Linked DNA regions of Homo sapiens: all the other regions are linked to region 5. The links come from fine-mapping of genetic effects on gene expression. A gene starts in region 5. Each other region holds a variant in brackets. All regions are shown on one strand. Distances are between the middles of the regions. Region 1 has its middle 13 kb from the start of RNVU1-8. Region 2 has its middle 23 kb from the start of PRKAB2. Region 3 has its middle 35 kb from the start of RNVU1-8. Region 4 has its middle 81 kb from the start of CHD1L. Region 5 holds the start of CHD1L (chromodomain helicase DNA binding protein 1 like).

What was found.
Region 1: its variant is fine-mapped to the expression of CHD1L in whole blood (TOPMed, PIP above 0.99).
Region 2: its variant is fine-mapped to the expression of CHD1L in lung (GTEx, PIP above 0.99).
Region 3: its variant is fine-mapped to the expression of CHD1L in blood mononuclear cells (TOPMed, PIP 0.92).
Region 4: its variant is fine-mapped to the expression of CHD1L in whole blood (TOPMed, PIP above 0.99).

Annotation. Positions count from the first base shown.
Region 1 is chr1:147,094,905-147,100,013 of GRCh38, forward strand. It overlaps the pseudogene NBPF13P. Among named protein-coding and RNA genes, the nearest start is that of RNVU1-8, 13 kb to the left of the region's middle. The variant A/G (reference allele first, on the strand shown) is at 2,467.
Region 2 is chr1:147,147,227-147,152,335 of GRCh38, forward strand. No RefSeq gene overlaps it. Among named protein-coding and RNA genes, the nearest start is that of PRKAB2, 23 kb to the right of the region's middle. The variant AG/A (reference allele first, on the strand shown) is at 2,539.
Region 3 is chr1:147,117,343-147,122,451 of GRCh38, forward strand. No RefSeq gene overlaps it. Among named protein-coding and RNA genes, the nearest start is that of RNVU1-8, 35 kb to the left of the region's middle. The variant G/A (reference allele first, on the strand shown) is at 3,054.
Region 4 is chr1:147,320,940-147,326,048 of GRCh38, forward strand. No RefSeq gene overlaps it. Among named protein-coding and RNA genes, the nearest start is that of CHD1L, 81 kb to the left of the region's middle. The variant A/G (reference allele first, on the strand shown) is at 2,064.
Region 5 is chr1:147,240,638-147,245,746 of GRCh38, forward strand. CHD1L (chromodomain helicase DNA binding protein 1 like) reads left to right here and starts at 2,047. Exons shown (of 23, transcript NM_004284.6): 1 at 2,047-2,193. The coding sequence starts at 2,067. RefSeq lists a silencer at 1,879-2,498.

The DNA of each region.
Region 1 (5,109 bases), 150 kb before region 5:
CCAAACAACCCAGCAATCCAACTTCTGGGTATATAATCGAAGGAAATGAAGTCAGTATCTCAAAGAGCTATTTGCACCCCCGTGTTTATCACAGCATTCTTCACAGTAGTCAAGACATGAAAACAGCCTAAGTGTCTACCGATAGTGAATGAAGGGTCACCTCAGAACTTACACCCACTAGGAGGGCATGTCGAAAGCAGGCTCACTTGGCCACTTTTACAACTTACTTCTGACCAGAAAGGCACCACCTTGGCTGCCCAGTGGATAACTGCCTGGGAGCAGGGAGACTCCCTGTCCTTGCTCACTTCCCCATTTACCTAATAAAAATATCCACTTTTTGCTCCAAAGGAGAGGTTTTGTGCTTCTCCCCCAAGCTACCTTTGGAAATAAATTCACTTTTTTTGTAGCGGGCCTCACACTTAATTGGACTCTACATGTGGTGAGCAACTGACCTGCTTTTGGTTACAGAATGAGTTTTAGAGATCTAATGTACAGCGTGAGAACTATTGTTAATGCTGTATTGTATACTTGAAGTTTGCTGAAACAGTAGATCAAAAGTGTTCTCACTACACTAAAAAAGGAACTATGTGAGAAGGTGGATATGCTAATTAGCCTGACTGTAGCCATTAGTTCATTATGTATATGTATATCAAACCATCATGTTGTAGACTTTAATAGTATAGCATTTTAATAAAAATTTTTAAAAGATTCCTTTAAACAAACATTAACAATACCATCGAAAAATATGAACTACATAGCAAAAGAGGTGAACACCTGTACACTGAAGACTATGAAATATTGCAGAGAGCAATACAAGATCTTTGGAGGCCAGGTGTGGTGGCTCAGGCCTGTAATCCCAGCACTTTAGGAGGCCAAGGTGAGTGGATCACTTGAAGTCAGGAGTTCGAGACCAGACTGGCAAATGTGGTGAAACCCATTAGTCTCCACTAAAAATGCAAAGAATTAGCCCGGAGTGCTGGTGGATGCCTGTGGTCCCAGCAACTCAGGAGTCTGAGGCAAGGGAGTCATTTTAACCTGGGAGACGGAGGTTACAATGAACAGAGATCATACCACTGCACTCCAGTGTGGATGACAGAGTAAGACTCCATTTCAAAAACAAATTTAAAAAATTAAAATAAAAAAGATCTTTGGAATATAAGTTATTTATCGTATTTTTCAAGATTCCTTTTGCTATTTGCAGATACTTGCAATTTCTTCCAAATAAAAAGTTCTGTTTTTTTAATTTCTGAAAAAACAGGCCACTGGAATTTGAATAACATTACACTGAATCTGTAGATTGTTTTGAGTTTCATTTCCATCTTAACCATGTTAAATCTTCCAACAATGGACACAGGATGTCTTTCCATTTTTTTAGTTCTTCTTTAATCTCTTTAAGCAATGTTAGGTAGTTTTCAGTGTACAAGTATTTCACCTTCTTAAATTTATTCCTAGATGTGTTATTCTTATGGGTGCTATTATAAATGAAGTATATTAATTTTCCTTCAAAATTTTTTTCATTGCTAAAGCAACTGGTTTTTGTCCATTTATCTTGTGTGCTACAAGTTTGCCGAATTAGTTTATTAACTCCCGTAGTGTGTGTGTGTGTGTGTGTGTGTGTGTGTGTGTGTGTATTATTTGGTATTTTCTCTATATAGGATCATGTCATCTACAAATTGAGATAATTTGTTTTCTTTCCAAACCATTTTTGCTCATCTTCTTTTTTTTTTTTTTGAGATGCAGTCTCACTCTGTTGTCCAGGCTGGAGGGCAGTGGCCTGATCTCAGCTCACTGCAACCTCCAACTCCCAGTTTCAAGCAATTCTTCTGCCTCAGCCTCCAGAGTTGCTGAGACTACAGGTGCCCACCACCACACCCAATTAATTTTTATATTTTTAGTAGAGACAGTGTTTCACCATATTGGCCAGGCTGGTCTCGAACTCCTGACCTCGTGATCCGCCTGCCTCGGCCTCCCAAAGTGCTGTGATTACAGCTGTGAGCCACTGTACCCAGCCTCATCTTCATTTTTGAAAAAGATTTTCAGTGGGTATAGAATTCTAGGTTGACTTTTTTTTCAGTACTTAAAAGTATTGCAAACTTCTTGTTTGTAATATTTCTGATGAGAAATCAGATGCCATCCTTACATTTAGTCCTCAGTATATAACATATTTGTTCCCCTTTTAGCCCTCTTAGGATTTTCTCTTCATTACTGGTTTTGATCAATTTGAGTATGGTGTTCCTTAGTGTAGTTTTCTTCATGTTTCTTGTCCTTAGGATACATTATGTTTCTGGGATATTTGCAGTTTATGGTGTTCATGAAGCTTAGAAAGCTTCCATCCAGTGTGTTTTAAATATTTTTCTATCCCTGTTACCCACTCCATTCCCCTCAGGGATTCCATTTACCCCTACAGTAGGGTGTTTAAGCCTCCCATTGATGGGCTTTTTATGTTTTCAATTCATTTTTCCCTGC[A/G]TGTTTCATTTGTGTTAGTTTCTTCTACTACTCCTTCTAGTTCATTAATCTTTTCTTCTGCAATGTTTAATCAAGTGTATTTTTTTTAAACTTCAGACTGTAAATCGCAGTTTTCACTTATGGAATTTGATATTAAAAAATATCTCCCAATTCTTCACTTAATTAAAATTATAATAACTGCTGTAATGTCCTTGTCTGCTATTTCTAACATGTGTGTCATTTTCAACTGAATTATTTCATTCTTCGTTGTGTCTCATGTTTTCCTGTCACTTGCCTGCTTGAGATTCTGGGATTTGATGCCACACATTTGATGTCAATGCCCAAATGTGCCCAGTGGCACAACACGGCCTCAGTGTCCATGCACACCCAAACTTGTGCAGCAGGAGAGGCAGGAGAGCAGAGGCGAGTGTGCCACACATGGGGTAGGGAGTACCCCACTTGTGCTTGGGGCTTTCCTCTGCCTCATTGAAAAAATAAGTGTTCCTTTTCTTTTCCATAAGACCTGCCCTATTTCAAGCCCTGTCCCTCCAATGATAGGACAGTCCTCTCTCCAGTCTCATGCCTGCCAATGGGCGGACAATGGTTCAAAACAATTCAGGGGAGAAAGCATTGTCCTGTTAACAAATTCTGCTGAAAAAATGGACATCCATAGGCAAAAATAGAAAAAAATCCACAACCGATGTTGGCAAGGTTGCATAGAAAAAGGAATGCTTTTACACTGTTGGTGGGAGTGTAAGTCAGTCTAACCATTGGGAAAGACACTGTGGCTACTCCTCAAAGACCTACAGGCAGAAATACCATTTGACCAGTAATTCCACTACTGGGCATATACCCAAAGGAATATAAGTCATTCTGTTATAAAGATACATGCTGGCATATGTCCACTGCAGCACTATGTGTACAGGATGGAACATGAAGGCAGACTAGGAGCATGACCACTGAAGCACAGCATCACAGGGAGACGGTTAGGCCTCCAGATAACTGCGGGCGAGCCTGACTGATGTCAGGCCCTCCACAAGAGGTGGAGGAGTAGAATCTTTGCTAAACTCCCCAGGGGAAAGGGAGACTCCCTTACCCAGTCCACTAAGTAGTGGGTGTTTTTCCTTGACACTGAGGCTACCGCTAGACCACGGTCCACATGGCAATGGGCGTCTTCCCAGATGCTGGCATTACCACTAGACCAAGGAGCCCTCTGGTGGCCCTGTCCGGGCATAACAGAAGGCTGGCCCTCTTGTCTTCTGGTCACTTCTCACTGTGTCCCCTCAGCTCCTATCTCTGTATGGCCTAGTTTTTCCTAGGTTATGATTATAGAGCGAGGATTATTATAATATTGGAATAAAGAGTAATTGCTACAAACTAATGATTAATGATATTCATATATAATCATGTCTATGATCTAGATCTAGTATAACTCTTGTTGTTTTATATATTTTATTATACTGGAACAGCTCATGCCCTCAGTCTCTTGCCTCGGCACCTGGATGGCTTGCCGCCCACGAAATATAATAACTGACACAGGCAGGGGTGATTAATTGATGATAAAATGTTCAGAGGAAGATCGTTAGAATACAAGATATTTATACTTTTTCAAACCACTTTCCAAATGAATTATAAATAAGGAGTCTTTACAAGTGAAAGATCTCCTAGGCCCCTCCTTAACCAACTGACCAGTCCTGGTATCATGATACTGGTGATGGACAAACTGGACCTTCTCTGCCTGCAGATGGGCTGAGGTAGGAAACTCACCGCATTGACTCTGCAGTGTTCCCAGCAAAATGTTTAGGCTGAATTTAATCATAAGGACATTTTCAGACAAATTCAGAATGTAGACCATGATCTAGACAGCTGACCTGTCCTCTACAAACAAATCCATGTCACCACCATCAGTGACAACAATAAAAAGATGAGATGCTTTGGGTTCAAAATGACCAAAGAAGTGTAGCTACATTATCTTTTCAATCTTTTTCAACCCAAAATGTCTCTTCTCTTTTTTGTTGTGTGATTCATGGTGACGTGGACTGTGTGAAGGAGATAGGTCAGTTGTCCTGCTCAGTGTTCTACATTCTGCAGTTGTCTGGTGATTACCTCCTACGAAACTCAGGCTAAGTGCTTTCAGCAAGAACGTGGCATTGTTCTTATTCTGCACTGGCAAAGTCCCGGGTGACATGCTGTCTCCTGCCAGCGGCTCCTGACTCCTGTTCTCTACGGGATAGGAATTGAGAGGAGCAGGGCTAAGGCCTCTCAATGCTGTTTGTTCATCTGGGCATCAGTCTCCTTAGGTACTGATCATAGTTGATCACAATTGGAGGGGGAAGGGCTGTGGCTTCTCAAATCAAAGGAGGCTGGTGGGTTAAAATCATCAACAGCATTTCATGGTCTTAAGTTCACTTCTCATCAAAGGATCCCTGTGGTGTTGTGTTTGATCTTGAACTTGCTTTGCTGTTTTAGTCTTTTCCATCAAGTGAAAAAACTACTTTGATGACATCCTTTCATCCTTTTCATTCTTCCAGCAGTATTTGGTATCTTTAGGGGAGAGAGAGACAAAAATCAAATGAGAATCTTTGTCTGGTCCTGTCTGGCTGAGTCTGGAGGGACTGCTAAGTGATGATAACCCAGGGGCAAACTGAGCTCCTGCTGGGAGGA
Region 2 (5,109 bases), 93 kb before region 5:
AAGTTGTTTTTCTACAATGGTGTAATGTTTCTCTGAGCCAGCTCATCTGTTCCTTCAAAGGCCCCAAATTATTATTTTTTTTATCATCTTATGTCATTGTCATTAACTCCATTCTGCCCTTGCCTATGTCATCTACCATGCTATCTGTTTCACTGCATGGCACTAGAGACAGAGCCATTTTTCCAACTTTAAGTTTACTAAAAGACTCGCATCTCTGAAAGAAAATGGAAGTCAGTGGTTCTCTTTGATTTTGGTATTTAAAGCCATCATTAGGGTCAAGTGGAAATATGTTTTCTCCAGAAGTTATTAGGGGCTGTTCAATGCAGTAACTTTTCACTTCTTACGCTACAGTTGATCCCATCTGTGATAGTTAATACTGAGTGTCAACTTGATTGGACTGAAGGACTAAAAATATTGATCCTGGGTGTGTCTGTGTGGGTGTTGCCAAAAGAGATTAATGTTTGAGTCAGTGGGCTGGGAACGGCAGACCCACCCTTAATCTGGTGGGCACAATCTAATCAGCTTCCAGCGAACTAAAGCAGGCAGAAAAACGTGAAAAGGACAGAGACGGGCCTAGCCTCCATCTTTCTCCCATGCTGGATGCTTCCTGCCCTCAAACATTGAACCCCAAGTTCTTCAGTTTTGGGACTCGGACTGGCTCTCCTTGCTCCTCAGCTTGCAGACAACTTATTGTGGGACCTTGTGATTGTGTAAGTTAATACTTAATAAACTCCTATATATATACATATATATATAAAATAAACTATATATACACACACATATACATATATATATATATATATATATATATATACACACATATCCTATTTGTTCTGTCCCTCTAAGAGAACCCTGACTAATACAGATTTTGCTACCAGGGGTGGTTCTAGAGGAACAGAATATTAAGGATGGAGTTTTTCATTGGTTTTGGGGTTTCTGGAGTTGGCTGCTTAATATTATTGGACCCAAAATGCTAAGGACTCTACTTCTAATAGTATGGAAAACATTGATAGTCTTCTGTGCAAACAGTTTAGAGAGTTATGCAAAATAGATGCATTTGACACTCATGATTCACTGCTCATGAGAGGCAAGGAGTTTAGTGACTCTATACATAATACCTTTGACCATATGTGAAGAACTAAGGAACATAATGAAGCTGGTTAGTTGCTCATAAGTTCAGTGGACAAAGTGATGAAAGAAAAGGATGAACTCAGGGATTCTGTCTCCCAGCCTCAGAAGCAGACACTGCACCTCAAATCTGCTAACACTGCCCTGAGTGAGAGTCTTATATCCTGTAGATAAAAAGCTGAAATTGTGGAAAAACAGACACAAGCTTGCATCATGCGATTGGCTGACCTGCAATGAAAGATGAGTGCACAGCCTAGCCAGGTGTCTACCGTTAAAGTGAGGGCATTGACTGGAAAAGAATGGAACCCTGCAACTTGAAATGGGGACGCGTTACTCCTAGGGAGCACAATGCCAAGAGGAGAAAAATGTGGCCATAAGCCTCTGCCCCACACCCCAGAGCCCAAGAAACAACTGTTGGATTAGCAGGAATAAAAAGTGCTTGAAGAAGTGTTAGAGACTTACCTTTAACAGTTCTTTTTAGGACCAGGAGAGGTTAAGGAAAAAGGACCATTTCATCTACCGAAATAGTAATAATTATATTCTTCTGCACATTCAGTTTACAAAGGGTTTTACATATATTATCTCATGAATATTTATTGAGTAATTAATTTTTTGGACACCATGATAAGCACTGGAGGTACACAGGTCAGTGAATAAGATTTCCTTTAAGACCTCAAACTTGTAGAAAATAAGTGCTCAAAAATATACTTTTATCAGAATGTGGGAATTGTTCTAACCTCTGGATATTATAGCAAGGTAGGGACAGGGCACATAGGATGAGACATTTTTTCCTAATCAGAGGCTGGAACATTGAGAATTCTCAAAGGCAATCCCATTCTCATCACATTCTCATCCCATTCTCATCCACAGGAGGATGTCTCAGAGAAGAAAGGATGGCATAAGGCAGGGTCTTCTCTAAGGAAGAGTCTTTGCTACAACCTTAGAGAGTGTAGAGAATCTCCCAGAGGATTACTGGGATAATATAGGGAGCTAAAAGGAATTCAAATTGGAAAGAAAGAAGTAAAATTACTTCTGTTCATAGGTGACATAATCTGAAATGTAGAAAAACACTAAAGATTTCACAAAAAACTATTAGAACTAATAAATGACTTTAGCAAAGTAGCAGGACACAAAATAGCACACAAAAATAATTTATGTTTCTATACCCTAACAATTATCAAAGGAGAAAATTAAGAAAATAATTTTATTTACAACAGCATCAAAAAATATACATAGGAATTAGCCAAGAAAGTGAAAGACTTGTACAATGAAAACTATAAAATATTGCAGAAAAATATTAAAGAATGCATGAAAAAGTGGAAAGATGTCCCATATTCATGGATTGGAAGACTTAATATTGCTAAGATGTCAATACTACCCAAAGTGATATACAGATTCAGTGCAACCTCT[AG/A]TCCAAAATTCCAACAACTTTTTTTTTTGCAAAAATAGAAAAATCCACCTTACATTCATATGGAATCTTAAGGGGCCCTGAATAGACAAAACGATATTGAAAAAGAACAAGCTGGGTATGGTGGCTCATGTCTGTAATCCCAGCACTTTGGAAGGCTGAGGCAGGAGGACTGCTTGAGATCAAGAGTTCAAGACCAGTCTGAGCAACATAGCAAAAACTTGTCTCTACAAAAATTTTTTAAAAAGAACAAAGTTGGAAGACTCATATTTCCTGACTTCAAAATTTAATACAAAGCTCAAGTAATCAAAACAGTGTGGTACTAACACAAAGACATATAGATCAATGGAATAGAATAAAAAGCCCAGAAATAAATCCTGTATATATGATCAAATGATTTCTGACAAGGGTGCCAAGACCATTCAATGGGGAAAAGACAGTTTTTTCAACAAATGGTTCTGGGGAAGCTGGATATCTACATGCAAAAGAATGAAAGTGGACCCTTGTTAGGCTGCCCCTTTCCTGGTCCACATGGGCTAAAGAGAGCAGACAACTAACTCACTGTGTCATTTTTTGAAGCCTGAAGTTTCTGCCCTTTTCTCTTCATCTTTCAGAGTCTCCTTATGTTTATTGTATAGAAAATGTCCAGGGTTTTATTTCTACTTACTGGTAGGAATAGGGAAAAGCATGCCTATTCCATCTTCCCAGAAATGAAAGTCACTCTGCCAGCCTTTTCGTTTTTGTTAGAAAAAAGGGCTCACTCTGTCACCCAGGCTGCAGTGCACTGCATCATTGCTCACTGCAACCTCCAACTCCTGAGCTCAAGCAACAGCAATGCCCTTGCCCCAGCCTCCCGAGTAGGTAAGAATACAGGTGCGTACCACCACAGCTGGCTAATTTTTTTTTTGGAGATGGGGTCTTGCTATATTGCCCAGGCTGGTCTCAAAGTCCTGGCCTCAAGCAATCTCCCTCCCTCAACTTCCCAAAGTGCTGGGATTACAGGCATGAGCCATCATGCCTGGCCTCAGCTTTTTAATGTAAGTTCTTATTTCACCTTCACTTTTTGAAACGTATTTTCACTGGGTAAATAATTCCAGGTTGTAGGGGTTTTTTTTCTTTCAGTACTTAAAAGATGTTGCTCCACTGTGTTCTAGCTTATAATTGTTTTGATGATAAATCTGCTATCACCCTTATCTTTCTTCCTTTGTACATAACTAGTTGTTTCTCCTCTGGCTGCTTTTACAATTTTTCTAACGGGTTTTGAGAGATTTTATTATGATTTGCCTTCATTTAGTTGTTTTATTTTCTTATTTCTTGTGCTTGGGGTTAATTGAGCTACTTAGATCTGTGGCTTTATAGGTTCCATCAAATTTCGGGAAATTTGGGTCACTATTTCTACTAATATTTGTCCTATTCCTCTCGTACCTCTTTTGGGTATTCCAGTTGTCTTGGTCCATTTCTGCTTCTATAACAAAATATCACAGCCTATGCAATTTTGAAATAATAGAAATTTATTTTGTGCAGTTCTGGAGGCTGGGAAGCCCTAGATCAAGGCACCGGCACTGGTGTCTAGTGAGAGTGGCTCTTCACTTTCAAGATGGTTGCTTGTTGCTGTGTTCTTACATGGTAGAAGGCAGAGGGCAAAAAAGGCCAAAACTCTGTGTGAAGCCTCTTTTATAAATGCCTTAATCCCATTCACATGGGAGGACCCCTCAAGACCTAATCTCTTCCTAAAAGGCCCCAATTAATACCACCACAATGGAGATTAAGTTTCACCATGAATTTTGGAGGGGACACACATAGTACCAATTATTATGCCACTTGAAGTTTTTCCACAATTCACTGATGTGTTGTTCATTTTTAAGCCCTTTTTCAGTTTTATTTTGTGTAGTTTCTATTCTTACGTCTTTCAAGTATAATCTTTCTTTGCAATGTCTAATCTAATGTTCAGCCTATCCAGTTTACTTTTCTTCTCATGATTTGTAGTTTTAATCTATAAAGTTCAATTTGGGTCTTTCAGACGTGATAAAACACACTTACATATTTATATATATATATAAACATGTTTGCTTTTTTCTCCAGCTTTTGAACTTATAAACTTATTATTGTTTCAACTGTCTGCTATTTCTACCCTCATGTAACAGTTCTGAGTCAATTTCAATTGATGGATTTTTTTTTTTCTCATAATGGTTTGATTTTTCTATTTTTTTGAGTGCCTCAGTTTTTTTCCGATGTCGGATATGATAAACTTTTTCTTGTTTGGTGCTGAACATTTTTGTTTTCCTATAAATATTCTTGAGCTTTGTTCTAGGATGCAGGTAAGTTACTTGGAAACAACTTGATCCTATGGCTCTTGATTTAAGATATTAGATCAGACCATAGACATGTTGTATTCATTTCCTATCACTGCTGTTGACAAATTTCAACAAACTTAGTGACTTAAAACAACACAAATTTATTGTCTTACACTTCTGTATTTCCACATCCAAATGGGTCAGTAACGCAACAACAAAAAACCAAATACCACATGTTCTCACTCATAGGTGGGAATTGAACAATGAGAACACATGGAC
Region 3 (5,109 bases), 120 kb before region 5:
TCCTGGACAAAGGTAACTATGAGTTTGTCCCAATTGCCTGGGGTCCATGACACTGGGAACAGGGAGACAGAGGCATGATATGGGCTGAGGAGGAGAGGAAAACTCCCTAAACCTCCTGATATCTGTGTTTAGTACCCCATCCTAATTTCTAATTCAAACCAATTTGTTTGTATAGAGCTCTTTTTCAGAGTTGATCTTCCTCAGCCTAGACAGAGGTATGAGGGACAGGGAATATAGAGTCTACCTGGGAGAATGTGTAGAGCATCCTCCCATTCATCATGAGAGGATTCACTGTCTACAACCAGCCCAGAGTCAAATTTGTCTGCCTCAAATGTGATTTTGGTGTTCCTGTGTGGCTGGTTGGAGTCCTAAGTGCCGTGGCTATTTGAACAAGTGACGGCACATTCCTCCAGTGAGTCCTCAGGGACTTCCTTTTCTTCAGCCTTCTGCACCTCCCTGATGAGTCAGGTGGGATAGAGATGGCAAAATATTAAACAGAGAGGGATTGGACACCAGGGAGTCCTAGCCAGTTTTGACAGAGGCATAAGAGAATTGTCCCCAAAAGCAAAGGGGTGGCTCCCTCTAAGAGGGAACAGGCACTCCTCCTCTCTCTGCAAGAGATTGTGGATGCCATGGGAGCCAAAGAGGAAGAGAGCAGCTGGTGTTCATTGCACTGGGAAGATAGGAGCTGAAGAAGATGGAGGCTCAACTGTCTCTATGTGTGCAGATGTGACACTCAGCATGCATGGAGAACCATAACAGCTGCTACATCGTGTGCCAAAGTTGGGTTGAATTTAAATACTGTGGCCAAAGGAATACAGGCTCTTGAGCCACTGTAGGCTCCAGAAATGGTGTGCCTTCTAGGTCTTTTTTTTTTTTAATATTGTGAAATGTACAATTTTTTTCTAGGTACTTCTCTTGATGTTTATATTTTCTAGAAACTTCCTAAATAATTCCTCTGTTTGTTACCTCTTTACTATTTTTTTGAGACACATTCTCGCTCTGTTGCCCAGGCTGGTGTGCAGTGGCACAATCTTGGCTCACTGCAAACTCCACCTCCCGGATTCAAGCGATTCTCCTGCCTCAGCCTCCCAAGTAGCTGGGATTACAAGTACCCACCACCACACCTGGTTAATTTTTGTATTTTTAGTAGAGACGAAATTTTGCCATGTTGGCCAGGCTGGTCTCGAACTGCTGACCTCAGGTGATCCACCCACATTGGCCTCCCAAAGTGCTGGGATTACAGGTGTGAGCCACCATGCCTGGCCCACCTCTTTGCTATTTATCTTTCTTAACAAGAACCTGAAGACAATCATGTAGAAAGCAGCTTTGCATCTCCTCCTGGTTTTCATTACAGGAGAGAACAGTTCTCTGTGAATGCAGGAAATCCCTAGGGCTGGTGGGTTTATCGAGGGTCATGCTTACAAGGACCATGAAGACAATGGACTAGGGCTATTTCCTTGTTGGGTGAGCGCATGAAATGAGCACACTCTGCAGCTTTCTTTACCCTCCATCTGGAATCTGTGACTACCTTCAACTCACTTGTATTCTTTCTAAGACCTTTTCCATGGTTTATCCACCCACTACCTGCCTGATTATTCAGTGTTACCTGGGGGCAGGTGATTCTCATCCTTTATGAATCTCTTCATCTTTATCATTTTCATTATCACCTTCATCATTCTCTGCAAACAAATATAGAAGTGTCCATTTAGATATTCCTCACTTCACACACTGCAAGTACAGCAAGCCCTATGTGCACAGAGACATTAACATCTATGTATGGGTCAGCATTGTGCTGAAAGCTCTCATGTTTTATCTTTAACAAAATTCCCTGGTATGGTTTCCTGATCCATCAGGCAATGAATTTCTGATCTGGAGGGCCACCATCAAGCTGTGGCCAAATATTGAAAAGACCTTTTGCTCCCCGTATCACTGGAGGCTTGTCCAGCATCTTTCTGGACTTTGGCAGCTGTCTTCCCCATCCTGCCACAGATCTGATTCCCAGGCACAGGATCGGTGTCCTGTCACAACTCTCACATTTAGAATATATTTCTTTCTCTTACGGGAGGACAAACAGCCTTGTCCCACCTTTCTCCATGCATTGGGAGACTTCACAAGCCCTCCAAGTTGGCTTCTGCTGTGTTATTCAGGGACATTCTCTCCATGGGGAGTGCTCCAGTCTGAAGCACTTCCTACCACCAAATGCCCCCACATCAAGTGCCTTCTCCAACACCACACGGTGAGGGGCTTCATCTTATTTTGAAATGTAATCATAAGTGTTCCCATATTTGAATGCTGTATCTACCATTGAAGAGACATTTTGACCCCTGTAGAGATTTAGACAAAGAAATCCAGAAAGGATAAATCAATCACTCACCCAAGGTTACTAAGGACATTGCTGAAGATACAGCCTGGGAAACTTCATTCTTAATCCAGGACTCTTTTTACTCTAACAAGTTGCCTCCTGTCACAGCCTCCTTCCTATCCTTTAAAACTGAATGGATATGGCCTCTTGCTCCAAAGAACGTGACTATCAAGGAGGAGGAGACATTTGCAATACTGTGACCTCTAACCCCATGGACTTCTTGTCTCTGTTCCTACCCAGGAAATCCTGGTCATGTCATGGCCACATATGTTTAATGGAAAGAAACACCACCTATGTAACTGTCATTGTGGAGGTATGGAGGTGTAGAGTCTCTCACAAGCCTGGGGTTTTGTGTCATCAGGGCCTGTGGTCTCCTTATCTGGGCTGAGCTTGTGGACAAGGTGCTCAGCCAGCCTGCTCTCAGAGGTCCTGCCCCTGGGAGTTGTCAGAATCATCAGGAGTGAGGAGGGCCTTGAGATGCTGATTCAGTAAGAGGAAGGCATCTCTCCCTTCCCGTAACTTGTCCTGTAACTGGGCCGGCTCTCGGGCCTGGGAGTGAACAGAGACTTTATATTGCCTAAGGTGGGATAGTAGAGAAAATTTAGTAGTGGAAAGAGATGAGTGATCAGTTCTAATATCGAAACAAAGGAGCCCTCCACGCAGAAAGTCAGCACATATTAAAGGAAAT[G/A]CCTGTTGCAAAGAGAAAGAAAAATGTATTTTTTTAAAAAAACAGGTCTTCCCCACTGCGATAGAGAGAGAGAGCTCCAGGAAGATTTTTCAACATTCCATTCATCTTTTTCTTCTGTAACCAAATCAGTTCCAAAAGGATTTTCCTTCAATTTCTCATTTTGCCTGTGGACATTTTCATGTTCAAATACACATCGTGCATTATTCAGTGACTGGACACAAAGCCGTGCACAGAAATGTGGCCAGGTACAACTGGAAACATGAAAGAATAAAAGAATGACAGTGTCAAGAAGGCAATAGTGGTTGAAGAAATGAGAAGCCCAAGTCAGTTAGGAGTTGATTCTGACTAAGAGTAAATGCAGTGGTGATCGCACAGCATCTTGAGTATACTGAATGCTGCTGGGTAGTTCACTTTCCTTTGGTTAATTTTGTGTTATGCAAATTTCACCTCAACAATTACTTGTTAGAAAAAGAGAAAACGAGGCTCTGAGAAATAACTGCAACCCATAAATTACTATTATTGTTCTCTGTTTTATAAATATTTGTGTGACATGTGTCTGCCATGGCAATTCCTGCCCTTCCCCTGGCTCGGCTTAGCTCTTACTTCTCCCCCGCTGAGCTGCTGCACAGAGATTCACACTCCTGCCCACCTGCCTGCCCCCAATGGGGCCCCCTCACCTGAGCTTTCCAGCTTGCCTGAGCTTCTCTGCCAGCTTCTCCTCCTTGAACTGCAGCTCATCCCTCAGCCTAGATTTTATGAGGTCTTTGCACTCTTCACACTCTGAGAAAAGACAGACACACCTGCCTCAGTGGAAGGCTGGACATGCTGTTGCAGTCACTGCCTACAGGGCAGGAGCCAGGTCCATCCCAAGGACAAAACTGTCCCCAGTACCAGGCTCTAGGCAGGGATTGCACATCTTTACTCTTCAGTCTCCTCACTTCCTGGCATCTGATACTCCCCAACTTAGAGATAGGAAAAAAGCTCAGGGGCCCACCAAGCAACTTGACAAGATGATTCACCTGGAATGAGGTAGGGTCAGAATTCACAGCCCCTGAGGTCTGACTCTGAATCATGGGACACTTTCCCAAGCCTTGCAGCCTCTCCTGCACTGGGGCATAAAGTAGTGATTTTCTGTACAGCTGGGAAGGCTTCTAGGACTATGGGACTGTGAAAGGAAAATATCTTGGGCCTCCAAAATCACTAAGGAAAACTCAAGCTGGGAACTGCTTAAGGCAAACCTGCCTCCCATTCTATTCAATCACTCCTCTGCTCACTGAGATAGATGTATATCTGATTTGACTACTTTGGAAAGGCTAATCAGATACTCAAAATAATGTAACCATTTGTGTGTCACCCATCTGTGACCTGGAAGCTCCCTCCCATGGAAGCTCCCTCTCCACTTTGAGTTTTCCTGCCTTTCCTTCAAGATTTCCTGTCTTTCCAGACTGAACCAATTTACTTCTTACATATATTGGTTGATGTCTCATGTCTCCCTAAATGTATAAAACTAAGCCGTGCCCCAACCACCTTGGGTACATGTCGTCAGGACCTCCTGAGGCTGTGTCCTTGTGCGTCCTCAACCTTGGCAAAATAAACCTTCTAAATCAACTGAGACCTGTCTCAGATTTGTTGGGTTCACATTTTGGTAACCACCACGGGGGGATTCTGAGTGGAGATGCCCCTGACCTTTGACAAATCTCCTGTCAGTGCTTGGTACCAGCATGAGCTAACTTTATGGCTCAAGCCAATAGGATAATTTGCTGAGATCTGACAGCACCCCCTCCAGAGAATCCCTGATCTCCCCAAATTTGGTTGAGATCTTAAGTTTATTTTACTGTACAACTCTTCTTTTTTTGGAGTTTTACTTGCTTTCAACAGGAAGGCAAATTTTCCTGCTTCCATGACAATGGAATGCAGGTAACTCCTTTATGAAGTTTGAGCTTGCTTCTTCCAACAGGGAAGATGAGTTGTTTTCTCTTCTTCTAGGATGGTAGAGAGCAGTCTACAGACTGAGACCAATCACTAGTTAAGAAACTAGTTTGGGATTGTATCTTGC
Region 4 (5,109 bases), 80 kb after region 5:
CGATATTAGACAGATCAATGTGACAGAAAATTAACAAGGATATTCAGGACTTGAACTCAGCTCTGGATCAAGTGAACCTAATAGACGTCTACAGAACTCTCCACCTCAAATCAACAGAATATACATTCTTCTCAGCACCACATAGCACTTACTCTAAAACAGACCACATAATTAGAATTAAAACACTCCCTCAGCAAATGGAAAAGAACTGAAATCATAACAAAATTATCTTAGAATATAGTACAATCTAATTAGAACTCAGGATTAAGAAATTCACTCAAAACCACAAAATTACATGCAACTTGAACAACCTTCTCCTGAATGACTCCTGGATATATGACGAAATTAAGGTAGAAATCCAGAAGTTCTTTGAAACCGATGAGAACAAAGAGACAATATACCGGAATCTCTAGAACACAGCTACAGCACTGTTAAGAGGGAGATTTATAGCACTAAATGCCCATATCAGAAAGCTAAAAATCTCAAATTGACAACCTAACTTCATCATTAAAAGAGCTAGAGAAACAAGAGCAAATTAGTTTTAAAACTAGGAGAATACAAGAAATAAATAACATCAGAGCACAAATGAAGGAGATAGAAACACGAAAAACCCTCCAAAAAAAATCAATGAATCCAGGAGCTGGGTTTTTTTTTTTTTTTTGAGGTGATGGATACTTTATTTATCCTAATGTGATTACTACACCTTGCATGCCTGTATCAAAGTATCTCACGTACCCCATCAATATACATAGCTGCTATGCACCCACAAAATTAAAAACTTAAAAAGAAAATAAGCACTTTTGTGTAGCAGACACTATCAGAAAGTGAAAAGACAACCTATTAAATGAAAGAAAAAAAATTTTTTTTTATTATACTTTAAGTTTTAGGGTACATGTGCACAATGTGCAGGTTAGATACATATGTATACATGTGCCATGCTGGTGCGCTGCACCCACTAACTCGTCATCTAGCATTAGGTATATCTCCTAAAGCTATCCTTCCCCCCTCCCCCCCACCCCACAACAGTCCCCAGAGTGTGATGTTCCCCTTCGTGTGTCCATGTGTTCTCATTGTTCAATTCCCACCTATGAGTGAGAATATGCAGTGTTTGGTTTTTTGTTCTTGCGGTAGTTTACTGAGAATGATGATTTCTAATTTCATTCATGTCCCTACAAAGGACATGAACTCATCATTTTTTATGGCTGCATAGTATTCCATGGTGTATATGTGCCACTTTTTCTGAATCCAGTCTATCATTGTTGGACATTTGGGTTGGTTCCAAGTCTTTGCTATTGTGAATAGTGCCACAATAAACATACGTGTGCATGTGTCTCTATAGCAGCATGATTTATAGTCCTTTGGGTATATACCCAGTAATGGGATGGCTGGGTCAAATGGTATTTCTAGTTCTAGATCCCTGAGGAATCGCCACACTGACTTCCACAATGGTTGAACTAGTTTACAGTCCCACCAACAGTGTAAAAGTGTTCCTATTTCTCCACATCCTCTCCAGCACCTGTTGTTTCCTGACTTTTTAATGATTGCCATTCTAACTGGCGTGAGATGGTATCTCATTGTGGTTTTGATTTGCATTTCTCTGATGGCCAGTGATGGTGAGCATTTTTTCATGTGTTTTTTGGCTGCATAAACGTCTTCTTTTGAGAAGTGTCTGTTCATGTCCTTTGCCCACTTTTTAATGGGGTTTTTTTCTTGTAAATTTGTTTGAGTTCATTGTAGATTCTGGATATTAGCCCTTTGTCAGATGAGTAGGTTGTGAAAATTTTCTCCCATTTTGTAGGTTGCCTGTTCACTCTGATGGTAGTTTCTTTAGCTGTGCAGAAGCTCTTTAGTTTAATTAGATCCCATTTGTCAATTTTGGCTTTTGTTGCCATGGCTTTTGGTGTTTTAGACATGAAGTCCTTGCCCATGCCTATGTCCTGAATGGTAAAGCCTAGGTTTTCTTCTAGGGTTTTTATGGTGTTAGGTCTAAAGTTTAAGTCTTTAATTCATCTTGAATTGATTTTTGTATAAGGTGTAAGGAAGGGATCCAGTTTCAGCTTTCT[A/G]CATATGGCTAGCCAGTTTTCCCAGCACCATTTATTAAATAGGAAATCCTTTCCCCATTGCTTGTTTTTCTCAGGTTTGTCAAAGATCAGATAGTTGTAGATATGCGGCATTATTTCTGAGGGCTCTGTTCTGTTCCATTGGTCTATATCTCTGTTTTGGTACCAGTACCATGCTGTTTTGGTTACTGTAGCCTTGTAGAATAGTTTGAAGTCAGGTAGTGTGATGCCTCCAGCTTTGTTCTTTTGGCTTAGGATTGACTTGGCGATGCGGGCTCTTTTTTGGTTCCATATGAACTTTAAAGTAGTTTTTTCCAATTCTGTGAAGAAAGTCATTGGTAGCTTGATGGGGATGGCATTGAATCTGTAAATTACCTTGGGCAGTATGGCCATTTTCACGATATTGATTCTTCCTACCCATGAGCATGGAATGTTCTTCCATTTCTTTGTATCCTCTTTTATTTCACTGAGCAGTGGTTTGTAGTTCTTCTTGAAGAGGTCCTTCACATCCCTTGTAAGTTGGATTCCTAGGTATTTTATTCTCTTTGAAGCAATTGTGAATGGGAGTTCACTCATGATTTGGCTCTCTGTTTGTTATTGGTGTATAAGAATGCTTGTGATTTTTGTACATTGATTTTGTATCCTGAGACTTTGCTGAAGTTGCTTATCAGCTTAAGGAGATTTTGGGCTGAGACAATGGGGTTTTCGAGATATACAATCATGTCATGCGCAAACAGGGACAATTTGACTTCCTCTTTTCCTAATTGAATACCCTTTATTTCCTTCTCCTGCCTAATTGCCCTGGCCAGAACTTCCAACACTATGTTGAATAGGAGTGGTGAGAGAGGGCATCCCTGTCTTGTGCCAGTTTTCAAAGGGAATGTTTCCGGTTTTTGCCCATTCAGTATGATATTGGCTGTGGGTTTGTCATAGATAGCTCTTATTATTTTGAAATATGTCCCATCAATACCTAATTTATTGAGAGTTTTTAGCATGAAGGGTTGTTGAATTTTGTCAAAGGCCTTTTCTGCATCTATTGAGATAATCATGTGGTTTTTGTCTTTGGTTCTGTTTATATGCTGGATTACATTTATTGATTTGAGTATATTGAACCAGCCTTGAATCCCAGGGATGAATCCCACTTGATCATGGTGGATAAGCTTTTTGATGTGCTGCTGGATTCAGTTTGCCAGTATTTTATTGAGGATTTTTGCATCAATGTTTATCAAGGATATTGGTCTAAAATTCTCTTTTTTGGTTGTGTCTCTGCCCGGCTTTGGTATCAGGATGATGCTGGCCTCATAAAATGAGTTAGGGAGGATTCCCTCTTTTTCTATTGATTGGAATAGTTTCAGAAGGAATGGTACCAGTTCCTCCTTGTACCTCTGGTAGAATTCGGCTGTGAATCCATCTGGTCCTGGACTCTTTTTGGTTGGTAAGCTATTGATTATTGCCACAATTTCAGAGTGTGTTATTGGTCCATTCAGAGATTCAACTTCTTCCTGGTTTAGTCTTGGGAGAGTGTATGTGTCGAGGAATTTATCCATTTCTTCTAGATTTTCTAGTTTATTTGCGTAGAGGTGTTTGTAGTATTCTCTAATAATAGTTTGTATTTCTGTGGGATCGGTGTTGATATCCCCTTTATCATTTTTTATTGCATCTATTTGATTCTTCTCTCTTTTTTTCTTTATTAGTCTTGCTAGCAGTTTATCAATTTTGTTGATCCTTTCAAAAAACCAGCTCCTGGATTCACTAATTTTTTGAAGGGGTTTTTGTGTCTCTACTTCCTGCAGTTCTGCTCTGATTTTAGTTATTTCTTGCCTTCTGCTAGCTTTTGAATGTGTTTGCTCTTGCTTTTCTAGTTCTTTTAATTGTGATGTTAGGTGTCAATTTTGGATCTTTCCTGCTTTCTCTTGTGGGCATTTAGTGCTATAAGTTTCCCTCTACACACTGCTTTGAATGCATCCCAGAGATTCTGGTATGTTGTGTCTTAGTTCTCGTTGGTTTCAAAGAACATCTTTATTTCTGCCTTCATTTCGTTATGTACCCAGTAGTCCTTCAGGAGCAGGTTGTTCAGTTTCCATGTAGTTGAGCGGTTTTGAGTGAGATTCTTAATGCTGAGTTCTAGTTTGATTGCACTGTGGTCTGAGAGACAGTTTGTTATAATTTCTGTTCTTTTACATTTGCTGAGGAGAGCTTTACTTCCTACTATGTGGTCAATTTTGGAATAGGTGTGGTGTGGTGCTAAAAAAATGTATATTCTGTTGATTTGGGGTGGAGAGTTCTGTAGATGTCTATTAGGTCTGCTTGGTGCAGAGCTGAGTTCAATTCCTGGGTATCCTTGCTGACTTTCTGTCTCGTTGATCTGTCTAATGTTGACAGTGGGGTGTTAAAGTCTCCCATTATTAATGTGTGGGAGTCTAAGTGTCTTTGTAGGTCACTCAGAACTTGCTTTATGAATCTGGATGCTCCTGTATTGGGTGCATATATATTTAGGATAGTTAGCTCTTCTTGTTGAATTGATCCCTTTACCATTATGTAATGGCCTTCTTTGTCTCTTTTGATCTTTGTTGGTTTAAAGTCTGTTTTATCAGAGACTAGGATTGCAACCCCTGCCTTTTTTTGTTTTCCATTTGCTTGGTAGATCTTCCTCCATCCTTTTATTTTGAGCCTGTGTGTGTCTCTGCACGTGAGATGGGTTTCCTGAATACAGCACACTGAAGGGTCTTGACTCTTTATCCAATTTGCCAGTCTGTGTCTTTTAATTGGAGCATTTAGTCCATTTACATTTAAAGTTAATATTGTTATGTGTGAATTTGATCCTGTCATTATGATGTTAGCTGGTTATTTTGCTCGTTAGTTGATGCAGTTTCTTCCTAGTCTCGATGGTCTTTACATTTTGGCATGATTTTGCAGTGGCTGGTACCGGTTGTTCCTTTCCATGTTTAGCGCTTCCTTCAGGAGCTCTTTTTGGGCAGGCCCGGTGGTGACAAAATCTCTCAGCATTTGTTTGTCTGTAAAGTATTTTATTTCTCCTTCACTTATGAAG
Region 5 (5,109 bases):
ATTGTATATTCCATTGACTGAGATAGGAGAAAACCACCTTAGGCCTGGAGGTGGGACATGTGGGCAGCAATACTGCTCTTTAAGGCATTGAGATGTTTATGTGTATGCACATCAAAAGCACAGGACTTTTTTCTTTACCTTGTTTATGATGCAGAGACATTTGTTCACATGTTTTCATGCTGACCGTCTCTCCACTATTACCCTATTGTCCTGCCACATCCCACTCTCTGAGAAATGCCCGATAATGATCAATAAATACTAAGGGAACTGAGGCTGGTGCCAGCGCAGGTCCTCTGTATGCTGAGCGCCGGTTCCCTGGGCCCACTTTTCTTTCTCTATACTTTGTCTCTGTGTCTCTTTTTTTTCTTAAGTCTCTCATTCCACCCGACGAGAAATACCCACAAGTGTGGAGGGGCAGGCCACCCCTTCACTACCTGATTTTTATTTATTGCTTGTCTCCTCCTTTTAAAATGTAAGATCCAGGAGATAAGTGGCCTCTATCTTCAGTACCATAGAGTGCTTGGCACATAGTATGTAATTCAGTCAGTGTCAGGCCTCTGAGCCCAAGCTAAGCCATCATATCCCCTGTGACCTGCACGTACACATCCAGATGGCTGGTTCCTGCCTTAACTGATGACATTCCACCACAAAAGAAGTTTAAATGGCCCGTCTTTGCCTTAAGTAATGACATTACCTTGTGAAAGTCCTTTTCCTGGTTCATCCTGGCTCAAAAAGCTCCCCTACCGAGCACCTTGTGACCTCTCACTCCTGCCCGCCACAGAACAAACCCCCTTTGACTGTAATTTTCCTTTACCTACCCAAATCTTATAAAACGACCCCACCCCTATCTCCCTTCGCTGACTCTTTTCGGACTCAGCCCACCTGCACCCAGGTGAAATAAACAGCTTTATTGCTCACACAAAGCCTGTTTGGTGGTCTCTTCACACGGACGCGCATGAAAGTCAGTATTTATGAATGACTCAAGACACAAAAATAGCTTCATAAAACAGTGCTTTGCTTGAGTTTTTATGAATAAACCAATCTGAAGTCATCCCTTTTCTAGCTCAGAACAAATTTCTCCCTTTTATTTTAGAGGAAGATGAGAATGGAGGGTACAAATTTAACATGAGTTTACTGAAGAAGGAAGCACCAAGATTAACCTAAATGAGAATACTATTCTAATGACATTAGCCAGAGAATAATATCGTTCCTGTTCCAGTACTGCCAATTACCATTACAAGTCCCAATATCTTCATTTACAATGTGGGGACAATTATAACACCTAATTATTGGTTATTGTGAAGGTTAAATAAGAAAATATACTTAAAGCCCTTAGGACACCACCCAGAACTTCATCAATAAATGCAGCTATTTTGTTATTATCATATTTATATTAGTGGTATACTACATCATAAATCCACTCAAAGCTGATGCTGAGTCACGGTGACCCCTAACTGAACACATTGCCTCAATCTGCTCCCCATAATGCACTTGAGATACCCACTGCCACAATGACGTCTTTGGTGATTTTAATTTACTACTATTCAGAGGTTCCCAATTTTGGCCTACAGGTCACAGGCAGTAAGAAAGGGATTTCAGGGACTAAATCAATTTATCACTAGGTAAACCGAACAAGAACAGTTTGATCTTATCGTGAATCACTGGAGGGCACGGAACAAGTCTTACTTCTAGAACCCCCAGGGCCCAGCGGAGTGTCTGACACATGATAGTCGATGTTGATTAAATAATAAATGAATGATGAACACATGCCACCTCCTTGACGGGCAGTTCAGGCAATCAGACGTCCTGTGCGTGATCAGACGCCTAGCGCTTCAGAAGCACGACTGGTGAGAACTGGGCAGCCCTTCCACGCTCCGCACTGCAAGAACTGCCTGTCCGGAAGGGTGACTGCACCAGCTCCGCTCCGGATATCTTGGCAGGACGCGCCCTCTGGCGGCGCCTCGCTCGTAGGTGGGCCCCAGCGCGCAGTCGCGCGCCCCCGCGCGTTGGGAAGTTGGGAGGGAGGTGCGCGCTTGGCCGCGCGGGGCGGGGCCTCTACCGGCCCGATGGAGCGCGCGGGCGCTACTAGCCGCGGGGGCCAAGCCCCTGGCTTCTTACTGCGGCTTCATACTGAGGGCCGAGCCGAGGCGGCGCGGGTGCAGGAGCAGGACTTACGGCAGTGGGGGCTGACAGGTGAGCGGGCTCCGGGCGGACTTCGGCCAGGCGGGCCAACCTATTGGGACTGCCTCTTGCGGGCCGGGGGCGCAGCGGGTGGGCCGCCCGGTGGGCAGTTTACCCGCTCGCGCCAGGGCCTTCCTTCGCTCCTGCCGTGGGCGGAGAGAAACTGCGCCCGGGCTTGGTGGCCACGGCCCCCGCCTGCGCGGCGCGCGGGGCCGGCGGACGCCAGATGAATGAGGTCGCGGGCCCGGTAGCCAGGCCTGGCCCCTGGCCTGTGGAGGGGAAACGTGGTGAGATCAGCGCCACCTGCAGGCCTCCGCTGAAGAGTTGGACGGCCTGGTGCACCAAGGATGTAGGTTTCCAGTTGCTGTTCCGGTGGGTTTGGGTCCCGGCCTGGGGAGTTTATTGGTTGCTTCTGTAAAACGATCAACTCATCTCCCAGCTTCAGCTTCTCCGTTTACTGTGCGCGCGCAGTTATTGGAGAATTCGCCACGGATTAATTCTCCGGATCGAGTTACGTGCGGTAGTGAGCGGACAAACTCAAGCAAAGCACTGTTTATGAAGCTATTTTTGTGTCTTGAGTCATTCATAAATACTGACTGAACCACGTACTATATGCCAACTTAGCTTGTCCGCTCACCACCGCACGTAACTCGATTTATTGACACTAGCCCTTACGGAGAGTCTGCAAAGCGCGAACCTTGCATGCCCCCCAGCCCTGCCGCTGCATGGCTGACCGTACTTCCTGCAGCTCCGAGACCCCGCTCTCCTCCTGGGTCTGCGCTGACTCGCCGCTGAACCGCCCCAGCCTCGTTTTCCTTACTTATAAGTTGGGAACGTAGTGTGTGCTTTGACTGTATTGACAGAATCATGCATCAGTAATAATACAGTCGTTTATTCATTACTTATTGAATGCTACTGGGAGCGTATTCTTAGGCATTGGCTACAAAGATGAGCAAAACAAATAGGGACCCTTCCTACCTAGAGTTTTAGACTAGTGAGAGTGCATTTAAAAGTATAAACTAATTTATTTAAGTGCTCAGTACCACGAAAGAGTAAGGTTTGTCATTCTAGGAATGAAACAAAAGGTGCAATTCTGTGTTCAGCTTAGAAGACTGAAAGATGAAGTTGAATGGAGAGGACGCTGACATGAAAGAGAAAGACCTCTCTCCTTGATTCCCTGAGTCTGTAAGAATGTGTGGCTGTAAGGAGTATGTATCCAGTTTTAAGTATGAGCTTGTAGACTGGTCTTTTTATGTTTGACTTTATCTTAACGAAAGTTTATGTTTGTGGGTTTGCCTATTTCCTTGCAAGTGTTGGGAATGGTTCTTTAAGAACTTGTGTGAGAGAGGGCTCAGAAAAGTGTGCCAGTTGATACTTAGCTGTGGATAATATGCCAGGAGAAACGTACATATGGGCAAGTGTTTTAGTGAAAATGAGGAGACAAGAGGTTGCAAGTTTGAGTGGATGGAATGGAGTGAGTAAATTCAGAATTAAGTAGGCAAATGTGGCAACTTGGATAAATTGGTAGTGGAGAAGGAAAATAGAAAAGCAGAGTCAAAGGAATGGCTACTGAATATTATAACTTGTAATTTCTATTTCTGTTTACCAGAATAAACTAGTGTTATGAGAAACTATTCTTCATGAGTTGGTTAAAAAAATTCTTACTACTTTTTTTTCGTTTGGTTACAGAAGTAGTACGTATTTTCAGTAAAACATTCAGGGAAATAGCCTATGCATAAAGAAAATAAATATTAATCTCCATAATCTCCTTACTGTTAACATGTTCTCTATCCTGTATAATTTCTTTTACTTTCTGGTGGAGGGGGAAGGTGAAAAATGGAGTTTCATGTACATTTTTTTGGGAAATCATAACTTTTTTTCCTTATCATTCAGTCTTCTTCAACATCATTCTTAATGGTTACAGTTTTTCAGTATATGGATGTACCATAGTTTAGACAGTCCCTCTTCTTGGTATTTAGGTTCTTTTTTTTGCTATTGTAAGTAACATAAATATCCTTGTAACCAAATATTTATTATAGGTATGGACGTTTAATTCCTGAAAGGTACCATTTCTAGAATAAAGAGTATGCAAAATTTTTGCTTATTTCTCTATACTCTCAGCAACACTGGTATTTTCTAATTTGAGAAGTTAATATGCTATCGTATTGTTTAATTTAATGTTTATTTGGTTACCAATATTGATGGACATTTGGATATTCATCTTTGGATCATGAAGTTACCTTAGGACCTTTTTGTTTCTGGAATATGCAGACCTATTACTTCTTGCTGTTTTGCTTGCTTTTTCACTACTTGTCATCTCCCTGACAGAAGGGCAAAAGAATCTACATCTGGAGGTTAAAAAGCTAAAGACTACCTTTCCCAGACCCCACTGTAGTTTGGTTGTAAACGTGACTTGGCTTTAGCCAGGCACGTGACTGGGAGATTTGGAAGGGGAAAGTGAGGGGAAGGACACAGAGGGGTTTGGATTTTCCGCTTCCCACTTAGCTACTACCTCATGGGTCTGTGGGAGGGTACAGAGCATTCATTTTGTTATCATGGATTGTGGCTGCGTTGATAGGTCCCTGGGGCTGACAGTACCGTGGCCTCCTGGTTGGTTCCTGGCTTCCAGGTCGTGGAGGTAGATACTTCCTTGGTGTGTCCATACTGTGGTGCTTGATTTAGCAGTTGTACCCAGAAGATCAGCCTAGATGTTACTCCTCCAGGCCTTTCGACAATTTTGTGGTGATCTAATTCCCTGTATTACATTCCTTTCTGCCTAACCTACCAAGGGTAATTTCTGGTTTTTGCTGTTGACTCCTAAGTGTTAAGTATTGTTATCTTTGTGGATATAATTACATATTATTTTTGAAAATTCAACTTTTTTTTTTTTTGAGATAAGGTCTCACTCTGTTGCCCAGGCTGGAGTGC